2 separate regions of the Homo sapiens genome follow, and region 1 is linked to region 2. Evidence: fine-mapped expression QTL. Tissue or cell type: lymphoblastoid cells. Region 2 holds a variant in brackets; the other region holds the start of a gene. All regions are shown on one strand. Distances are between the middles of the regions. Region 1 holds the start of GATC (glutamyl-tRNA amidotransferase subunit C). Region 2 holds the start of SRSF9 (serine and arginine rich splicing factor 9).

The links.
Region 1: it holds the start of GATC, and the variant in region 2 is fine-mapped to the expression of GATC in lymphoblastoid cells (GTEx, PIP above 0.99).

Annotation. Positions count from the first base shown.
Region 1 is chr12:120,444,195-120,449,540 of GRCh38, forward strand. It overlaps GATC (glutamyl-tRNA amidotransferase subunit C), which reads left to right and starts at 2,250. Exons shown (of 4, transcript NM_176818.3): 1 at 2,250-2,367; 2 at 2,463-2,635. The coding sequence starts at 2,287. TRIAP1 (TP53 regulated inhibitor of apoptosis 1) reads right to left here and starts at 2,190. Exons shown (of 2, transcript NM_016399.3): 1 at 2,032-2,190; 2 at 1-761. The coding sequence starts at 2,178. The coding sequence ends at 678. RefSeq lists enhancers at 1,372-2,219, 1,531-2,730, 1,945-2,494, 2,092-2,386, 2,220-3,065.
Region 2 is chr12:120,466,298-120,471,665 of GRCh38, forward strand. SRSF9 (serine and arginine rich splicing factor 9) reads right to left here and starts at 3,451. Exons shown (of 4, transcript NM_003769.3): 1 at 3,125-3,451. The coding sequence starts at 3,312. It also overlaps a transcript of DYNLL1 not described here. RefSeq lists silencers at 2,690-2,859, 3,110-3,409. The variant G/A (reference allele first, on the strand shown) is at 2,810.

The DNA.
Region 1 (5,346 bases), 22 kb before region 2:
ATTCCAAGTATCTTAATTCCTGAACTGCACACTGAGAGCTCTGAAATGGTGTTCACTGCAACATTCTTGCAGCTTTCACATCTTAATCTGACACCTCTTGTGAAGGCAGGGAACTGTGTTAAAAGCTGTCTTCCTCTTTGCTAATCCAGGCCACCATCAATCTTAACCATTAGTTACTATATAAAAATAAAAGTGTGCTCAAAAGCACTCACTGAAACTGTTGTGCCCAGATCCCTTTTCAGAGCATTAGTTCCCTGAGAGGAAAAAAAGAGGTCCTAACCAATTGCTTTCATAAATAGTGACCCCAGTACAGTGTATATGTCTTTTGCAGCAGAAATCAAGAGGTCAGGCAGCTCTGCTCATCCTGACTAGTTTATCATCGTTTGCATACAAGGTATATTTATGTAAAGCTGATTCCACGCCAAGTATTGCAACCATAATCTCAAAAAAATTGTTCAATTTTAGCACACAGTTCCTGCAAGATACCACAGCAGGTGAGAAATCATCTCAAAGAGTTCATCTTTTACAACTGAGAGGAAAACATCGAAGGAGGAAATAAAACTCCTCTCTCCTAAGTTCCTCATCAAATCTGATGGCTATGTTCACAGAGTTAGTTGACAAAAATCCAGAGTCCTCAATTTCTGGACTTGCGAAATCCTTCAAGGTGACTGTCAAGGTCAAGAAGAATTTTCAGGCTTTTCTTTGCCATGGCCCATGAACTCCAGTCCTTCAATAGGAATCTCTTTCTCCTTTATTGCTTTCTGGTAGGAGGAGAAAACACATTATAAAGACCTACATGAAGCTTAAGTTGCAAGCTTTGTAAATAAAATATGACAGTACAAAAGTAAAATCAAGCTGATTATAAAGACTTATAACCATGATTCAAACCACATACTTTTTAAAAAACAAGTACCGGTCAGGTGTGGTGGCTCACGCCTATAATCGCAGCATTTTGGGAGACCAAGGCAGGTGGATCACTTGAGGCCAGAAGTTAGAGACCAACCTGGCCAACATGGCGAGACCCTGTTTATACTAAAAATACAAAAATTAGCTGGGCATGGTGGCGCATGCCTGTAAGCCCAGCTACTCGGGTGGCTGAGGCATGAGAATAGCTTGAACCTGGGAGGCGGAGGTTGCAGTGAGCTGAGATTGTGCCATTGCACTCCAGGCTGGGAGACAGAGTGAGACTCTGCCTCAAAAATAAATAAAAACCAGAAGTACCATAATGAATAAATCAAGTGTAAGACCTGAGGGAGACTGGAAAAGGAGTTGTGAGGGAACCGTTAAAATTAAGTGAAATTTGAAAAATAATCATCACTTTGTGTTAGTGAAAGACTTAGGTTCAAATCTGGGTTCCAGGACTTACTGGCTATGTGACTAACTGTAAATGGGATGAAGACAGCAACTACCTCGGGGAATTGCTGTGAGGATGTGTTGGGTTAACTTATTGGAAGTGCTTTGCCCGGTGCTGTTCTTAACAATTCAAAGCAGTTCCACATCCATTGGGCCAGAATAAACATTTCCTGGCTGCAGTTGCGGGGACTGGTCAAGAGAGAGAAACAGGCTAACGAAGGGTTTATAACAACAAAAAAATGTGACCCTCCAGTCTGAATTCTGAAGTATAATCCCGCCCAGACCCCAGCAGTAATAGTGGAAAAGTGCACCACCTGCGAAAGAACCAAGGAAACCTGATGCTAGTGAACTCGGATTAATCACTTCCTATTTCTGGGTGTTAGTTTTTTATGTATAAAATATGAGTAACTATGCCCACCTTGCGAGTTTAGGGTGAACACCAAATGAACCAAAGGATGTGACTGTGCTTCTTGAAAAGCACTGCCCCAATATTTGTCATTCGGAGAGACACCCAAGTGGCCTCGGTGGTGATGGTAGGGGAGCGAGCTCCTGCCACTGGCCTCACTGCGACTTTTCTCCACCCTTCCAGTCCAGTCCCAATCCCCGTAAAATACGATGAGTGTGGTGGGACACAGCGCCGAGAATGCAGGGCCTGGGAACAGAGGCGGGAGGGCTCACCTGAACACACTGCTGGTAGCGCTTGAAGAGGTCGGTGCACGGGTCCCCGGAGCTGTCCCCCTTGAGAAATTTCTCGGCGAACCAGCGATTGAAGCACTGGTCGTACTCGCGCTTCATGTCCGTGCATGCCTCCCCCACACTGTTCATGGCGACAGTGGTGGCGGCGGCGACGACGGCGCACTCTGATGTCATCACTCTCAGGCGCGTCGCTCGGCGTTACGCGCGGGCGCACTGCGGGGGCCAAGGAAGGAAGAAATGTGGTCGCGGTTGGTGTGGCTGGGCCTTCGGGCCCCTCTGGGCGGGCGCCAGGGCTTCACCTCCAAGGCGGATCCTCAGGTAAAGGCCAGGGCCATCTAGGCGGGTGGCGGAGCAAGCCGGGAGGCACTTCGGAGCGCCGGTGACCCACACTCCCCGCCTCATCCCTCCTCCAGGGCAGTGGCCGGATCACGGCTGCGGTGATCGAGCACCTGGAGCGTCTAGCGCTTGTGGACTTCGGCAGCCGCGAGGCAGTGGCGCGACTGGAGAAAGCTATCGCCTTCGCCGACCGGCTACGCGCCGTGGACACAGACGGGGTGGAGCCCATGGAATCGGTCCTGGAGGACAGGTAAACTCGCGGCTGCAGCCCCGAAGCCTTGACCGTGGCCCGTTCGCAGCCGTTTAATGTGACGATTAGCGAACAGTTTTCCAGGGGGTTAAAGAGTGTTAGCAAGATTCAGGAACTTGCCCACAGTCACCTCGCGAGTCAGTGGCTTCACTCTTCCCCTTGTTCATTACTGATGCTCTCGCTAGTGTAAGTGGAAACAAAACCCGAACTGCTAATCACTGCCTTTGTTTTTTTTTTTGTTTGTTTGTTTTGTTTTTTTTTTTTTGAGACGGAGTCTCGCTGTGTTGCCTAGGCTGGAGTGCAGTGGCTCGATCTCGGCTCACTGCAACCTCCGCCTCCCGTGTTCAAGCAATTCTCTGCCTCAGCCTCCCGAGTAGCTGGGATTACAGGCGACTGCCACCAGGCCCGGCTTATTTTTTTTGTATTTTTAGTAGAGACGTGGTTTCACCATCTTGGCCAGGTTGGTCTTGAACTCCTGACCGTGATCCACCCGCCTCGGCCTCCCAAAGTGCTGGGATTACAGGTGTGAGCCACCGCGCCTGGCCTAATCATCGCCTTTAAGGCCCTACTCCATAGAGTCCCTACCTACTCACTCCAACGTACTCTTCTCAGTACTCTCCTTGGCTACCTTGACTGCTTCTCCAGCAAGACAAGTTCTTTTCCTCTCTAGATCTCTGCACTGGCCCTTCGTTTTTTTCCTTCCTCTCAGTATTTGCATGGCTGCCTCCCTCTTGGCACAGGTCTCAGCTTATCTTCTCAGAAAGGGCTCTCCTAACCACTCCAAATCCCTTCTCCCCTTCTAGTTAGTAACTCATCCTATTGGGTTTTTTCCCTAACATTTTAATGGACTTTTGTTCATTTGTTATATCTCTTTTATTAAAATGTGAGCTCATTATGTAGTTACTGTTTTATTCCTGCCTTGAATTTTTATTTTATTTGTTTTTGAGATGGAGTCTCACTCTATCACCCAGGTTAGAGTGCAGTGGCATGATCTCAGCTCATTGTAATGTCCACCTCCCAGACTCAAGAGAGCCTCCCATCTCAGCCTCCCAAGTACAGGACCACAGGCGCGTGCCACTTGGCCTGGCTAATTTTTTGTATTTTTGATAGAGACGGGATTTTGCCATGTTCCCCAGGCTTGTCTGGACTCCTGAGCAAAGGTGATCCACCCATCTCAGCCTCCTAAAGTACTGGGATTACAGGCATGAGCCACAGCACCTGGCCGTGTTTGATTCTTTCAAATGTCTTCTCTACTTTGCAATTTTCTTTTTCCTTTGGGACGGGGTCTCACTATGTTGCCCAGGCTGGTCGCAAACTTCTAGACTCAAGAGATCCTCCTGCCTCAGCCTCCCAAATAGCTGGGACTATAGGTGTGCACCACCACACCTGGCTAATACTTAAAATTTTTGTAGAAACGGGGTCTTGCCATGTTGCCCCATATGGTCTCAAACTCCTGGTCTCAAGCAATCCTCCTGCCTCAGCCTCCCACTTCCTCAAGAAAGTTTTTTTTTTTTTTTGAGGTGGAGTCCTGCCCCATCACCCAGGCTGGAGTGCAGTGGCATGATCTTGGCTCACTGCAACCTCCACCCTCCAGGTTCAAGTGATTTTTGTGCCTCAGCCTCCGGAGTAGCTGGGATTACAGGCACCCGCCACCACACTCAGCTAGTTTTTGCATTTTTAGTAGAGACAGGGTTTCACCATGTTGACCAGGCTGGTCTCGAACCCCTGGCCTCAAGTGATCCGCCCATCTTCGCCTCCCAAAGTGCTGGGATTACAGGTATGAGTCACTGCACTGGCCAAAAAAGTCCATTCCTTTTTTTTTTTTTTTTTTTTTGAGACGGAGTTTCACTCTTCCACCCAGGCTGGAGTACAGTGGTGCAATCTCAGCTCACTGCAACCTCCACCTTCCGGTTTCAAGTGATTCTCTTGCCTCAGCCTCCCGAGTAGCTGGGACTACAGGCGCCCGCCACCACGCCCAGCTAATTTTTGTATTTTTAATAGAGACGGGGTTTCACCATGTTGGCCAGGCTGGTCTCGAACTCATGACCTCACAGTCCACCCGCCTCGGCCTCCCAAAGTGCTGGGATTATAGGCGTGAGCCACAAGTCTTCATTCTTTTATACTTAGGTTCTTTTTTTTTTTTTTTAATTGAGACAAGAGTCTCGCTCTGTCGCTGAGGCTGGAGTGCAGTGGCGTGATCTTGGCTCACTGCAAGTTCCGCCTCCTGGGTTCATGCCATTCTCCTGCCTCAGCCTCCCAAGTAGCTGGGTCTACAAGTGCCCACTACCACGCCTGGCTAATTTTTTGTATTTTTAGTAGAGATGAGGTTTCACCGTAGCCAAGATGGTCTCGATCTCCTGACCTCGTGATCTGCCCACCTCAGCCTCCCAAAGGTGCTGATTACAGGCGTGAGCCACTGTGCCTGGCTATACTTAGGTTCTCTACCTGTGGCTCTCGTGATATCCAAAAGGGCTGATTTATACATGCGTTTATACATCTATTTAAGGGATGTGTTGAGTCTCTGCCCCTCTCCTGCTCACCCACCTTCCACAGCATGTCTGTTTTTCCTTATCATGTTCTCAGTGGTTGGCACTGAGTATTCAGTAAATGTGTTTTGTTTTGTTTTGTTTTGTTTTTTTGAGATGGAGTCTCACTCTGTTGCCCACGCTGGAGGCAGTGGCGTGATCTCGGCTCACTGCAACCTCTGCCTC
Region 2 (5,368 bases):
CAAGATCACACTACTGTACTCCAGCCTGGGTGACAGAGACCCTGTCCCAAAAAACAGGAAAAAAAAAGTAGCCAGTTAGATAGGAGAGTATTTGAGGGTAAATAAAGTAGCTGGGCATGATGTTTGAGCCCAGGTCAGGCCAGCCTGGGTAATATAGTGAGACCCGGTCTTTTAAAAAAATAAATAAATAAGGCTCAAAGGACAAAAGAAAAATGCAAATGAGTGTTTTGTGATGAATGTGGAACTTTTTTTTTTTTTGAAACGGGGTCTTGCTCTGTCACCAAGGCTGAGTGCAGTGGCTGGAGCATAACTCACAGCAGCTTCTAACTCTTGGGCGCAAGCAATCCTCCCACCTCAGCCTCCTGAATAGCTAGGGCCACAGGCGTGTACCACTGCACCCAGCTAATTTTTGGATTTTTTGTAGAGACAGGTCTCCCTCTGCTGGCCAGCCTGGTCTTGAACTCCTGGGCTCAGGCGATCCTTCCCCTCAGTCTCCCAAAGTGCTAGGATTACAGGCATAAGCCACTGCGCCTGGCCTTGGAACTCTAAGTGTACCTTTTCAGCATGGTTTGGAGAACTATTTTTGTCAAAAAACATTCTTTGGATACAATTTTGCCAAAAGAGATAAATATTCAATAAAATTACTTTAAGTCTTTCCTAGGACTCTAGGAGAGTCAGGAATGCCACGTTGATTCTCCAGTATTGGATGGTAGAAAGTGTGACCTTGGAGCTTGGGTGGACAAGAGGAGCTGAATGTGCTAATGAAGGCATTGTTCAGTGTCACAGGCACATAATCACTTGTAAGATTTTAGAACTAAAAGCAACAATGACCATATCCAGTGCAACCTTGACTACGTAAAATGCAGACTGGGAGAGGCAGAACTGCTAGGAGGTCAGAACAACTCTGAATAAAAACTGGCCAGCATTCAGGCCAGGCGCTGTGGCACATGCCTGTAATCCCAGCACTTTGGGAGGTGGATCACTTGAGGTTAGCAGCTTGAGACCAGTCTGGGCAACCTGGTGAAACCCCTCGTCTCTACTAAAAAGATAAAAATTAGCTGGGCATGGCATCGCGCAGCTGTAATCCCAGCTACTCAGGAGGCTGAGGCACGAGAATCTCTTGAACCCAGGAGGCGAAGGTTGCAGTGAGCTGAGACTGTGCCGCTACACTCCAGCCTGCACGACAGAGCCAGACTCCATCTCAATAAATACAATAAATAAATAAAATTAGCCTGCATTCAAATCACTATTCTGCAAATTACTAGTAGTCATCTCTGGGTAAGTGTTTAATCAAGTTTTTACATCTCTAATGTGAACAGTATGCCTATCTCACAGGGTTATTGTAATGGTTAAATAAGATACTACATGAAATGCTTTGCTTGAATCTTCACATCTAGTGACACCAAAAGATAGTTTTTCTATTATGAAAGGAATGAGGGAAGATGACAATGTAGCGTATCATATAGTAAGTTTGCATTCGAAAAACAGAAGAGGGAGTTCAAATCCATTGATCCCGGCCTGGCGTGGTGGCTCAGGCCTGTAACCTCAGCATTTTGGGAGGCTGAGGTGGGTGGATCACTTGAGGTTAGGAGTTCAAGACAAACCTGGCCAACATGGAGAAACCCCGTATCTGCTGAACATAGAAAAATCAGCCAGGCATGATGGCGGGCGCCTGTAATCCCAGCTACTGGGAAGCTGAAGCGGGAGAATCGCTTGAACTCAGGTGGCGGAGGTTGCGGTGGGCCGGGATCGCACCACAGCACTCCAGCCTGGGCAACAAGAGTGAAGACCTGTCTCAAAAAAAAAAAAAAAATAGTACCTACACCTCATAAATTGTTAAAAATACTAAATACAGGCTGGGCGGGTTGCTCACGCCTGTAATCCTAACAATTTGATCCGCTGAGACGGGAGAATCACCTGAGCTCAGGAGTTCCAGACCAGCCTGAGCAACATGGTGAAACCCCTAATTTATCAATCTAAAAAAATAAGAAGGAAAGAAAAAAAGCTAAATACACACCATGGCACTTGACCCATAGCAACTGTTGAAAAACCACAATGGCACGGTTACTAAATAAGCGAGGCATAGCCTTCTCCGGCTTAGGGGTAAAAATGCCCAGTTCCGGTTTTGAGGCAAATGAGGAGATACTAGGGATGAGCTGTCAGAGTCGACTCTTCAGCCATCAACGCCTCGCGGTGCTTCCTGCCTGCCCTTCCTCAGATGCTCCCCTTGCCCTATCAATACGTCCACCCCAGGTAGGTCGGACACCCTACGAACATTCCGCGTTCCCCGGGAGCAAATGATGCTAGGAAAACAGGGTGCGGGCTCTTATTTGGCCGGAGTGGAGTGACCAGGTCAGCGCCGCAGCTGCTAACCACCACCAACCACAGTTTTGAAAGTTCCTGGGCTTTTTCCGGCCTGAGGGCCGACGCTGTTTGCAAAATCACAAGCACTCCTTAGAGCGGGGTTAGGAATCTAGAGTTTCCAAATCCCTGGAACCTTTAGCATCTCGCCAAGCCTCCCTCATCAAAGGAGGGAAGTGAAATCAGAGCCCCACTCCGGCTGTTTTAGAAGTTTTCCCGAATCCGTGATCCCTTTACAAAGCCCGGGCCCTGGCCTGCGGGGCGGGGCGCGCGAACGGCGAGCTATTCCACCAGAGATCCCTCCACGACCTCCAGCGGCATCCGCGACCCTGCAGCTTGCTCTCCAGCCACGGCGAGCACGGGCCGGGGGAGAGGCGAGCGGGAAGGGCGAACGGCGACCCCCGCGCTGCCCCGCGGCCGCTTCCCCCTACGGTGCTGCCCCAGGCAG[G/A]AGGCGGACAAGGCTCATTTGGACCCCCCGAGGCCGGTGCAGGCGGGCTTGGGCCCTCCAAAGGCTCAGCTTTTGGGTTTCTAAGTAAAATATTGGAATAATAAAAATAAAGGAAGTGACGACGGCGCGAAGGACGGCCCGGGCCTGCGAGGAGAGGCTGCCTCATCCTCCACCCGTGAGGGGGCGCCGTGAGGGGTCTGCGCGGAGGCGGGGGGAGGGGAGGCCGGGGGGAGGGGAGCCCTGGGGGAGGGGACAGCAGGGAAGGCGGGGGCCTCAGGCACCGAGGAGGAGAGGGCAGGGGCGCGGGGGCCTCACCGGGGGTCCTCGAAGCGCACGAAGGCGAAGGGCACGAGGCCGTGCCGGTTCTTGAGCTCGATCTCGCGGATGCGGCCGTACTTGTAGAACAGGTCCTCCAAGTCCTTCTCGCGCACGTCGGTCGGAAGGTTCCCCACGTAGATGCGCCCGTCGCCCTCGCCGCCGCGCTCGTCCGCCCAGCCCGACATCCGCACCGCCCGACGCCGCGGGCCCGCCGCAGCCCACGTCGCCGCCGCCGCCTCAGCACGGGTCCCCCCGCAGCGTCCCCGCGGGCTCCGAGGCGCTCAGCCGCACTGCATTGTGGGAACGCGGAGCGGAAGCGAAGGGGTCGGCGGAGGCAAAAGGAGTCCTCTTAAAGAGAACGCGGCTGCGACCATTGCGCGTGCGCGCAGGCCGGCGCCCCCTGGAGGTGCGAAGGGCCTTCGGGCGCTGACAGGGAGAGCCTGGGGCCGGGCCGTGTGGATGCCATCCCCGAGCGCGGTTCGCGCTCGGCTGAGGCGCTGGACAAGTGGCTTGGGCTCCCGCGCCTCAGTTTCTCTCTGTGGCGCCGCCTACCTCACAGACTTGTGAGCACTCACTGACGTGGGTAGCGCCCAGGGCCTGCGGGGCGCAGGAGAGCTGGAGTCAGGCGGAGACCGCAGGCTGACCCCGCAGCGGCCGGGCTGTCGCGGCCCCCACCTCAGGTCAGTAGGCCCCCGGGCCACCCTGTCCCCATTTTACAGTTGCTCAGAACTGACGGTGTCAGCATGAGATGGACTCCATAGCTTGGCCTTGAGTTTGTCGGAGTCGAGGGAGTAAGACTCTTAATGAGTATCACAGCGATCACTATAGAGTGCATCCGACTTGTGCTTTTCATCCTCTCCCGGGCAGAGTCTGAGGCCACAGAGGGGTCAGGAATGGAACCCAGAGCCATGCTCCCATCCTAAGTACTGAGTCCTTATGGAGCTCAGGTAGACACCCACCTTGGCACTTACTTTTCCACATTCACATCCCAGAACGCGGAGCATTGAACCCAGGGACCTTACAGTGAGGCCTTGCACCAGAAGACTTTTTGTTTGTTTTTGATACAGGGTCTTATTCTGTTGCTCAGGCTGGAGTGCAATGGCGCGAACACGGCTCACTGCAGTCTCGATCTCGCTGGACTCAGGTGATCCTCCCACCTCGGGGCGCCGTGAGGGGTCTGCGCTGCGTCCAGCTAGTTTATTTTCTATTTTTTTTGTAGAGAGGCTGGTCTCGAACTCCTGGGCTCAACCGATCCTCCAGCCTTGGCCTCCCAAAGTGTTGGATTACCGGCTTGAGCCCGGCGCCCGGCTGGAATACTCCTAACCTAAAGATTGTTCAGGCTGGGTGCGGTGGCTCACGCCTGTAATCCCAACACTTTGAGAGGCCAAGGCGGGAGGATCACTTGAGGTCAGTAGTTCGAGACTAGCCTGGGCAACATGGGGAAACCCCGTTTCTACTAAAAATACAAAAATTAGCTGGGCGTGGTGGCGTGTTCCTATAATCCCAGTTACGCGGGAGGCTGAGGCAGGAGAATTGCTTGAGCCCGGGAGGCGAAGGTTGCAGTGAGCCGAGATCATGCCACTGCACTTCAGCCTGGGTGACAGAGTGAGACTGTCTCAAAAATAAATAAAGATTTTTCATATTAAAAATGAAACCTGGCTGGGCGTGGTGGCTCATGCCTGTAATCCCAGCACTTTAGGAGGCTGAGGTGGGTGGATCACTTGAGGCCAGGAGTTCAAGACCAGCCTGGCCAACATGGCAAGACCCGCCCCCCTACTAAAAATACAAAAAAAAAAAAAAATTAGCCAAGCTTGGTGGCACGCCTGTAGTCCCAGCTGCTTGGGAGGATGAGGCACGAGAATCGCTTGAATCTGGGAGGCAGAGGTTGCAGTGAGCCGAGATTGTGCCACTGCACTCCTCCAGCCTGGGTGACAGAGGGAGACTCTGTCTCAAAAACAAGACAAAACAAAAACAAACAAAAAAAGGGACTAAAACCACACATTTAATCAGAAGGTAGTTGATTTCTCATTATACCATCTGAGCATTTTAAAATCAAAACAAACCAAAGACTAGACACCCACATATACTACTGAGTGTATATCTTTTTTGGAATACAAGTTGATAGTATACATCAGGCTTTCATAATATACATATACCCTTCGATCTTGTAATTCTGCTTGTAGGATTTTTTGTTTGTTTGTTTTGAGACGGAGTCTTACACTGTCACCCAGGCTGCAGTGC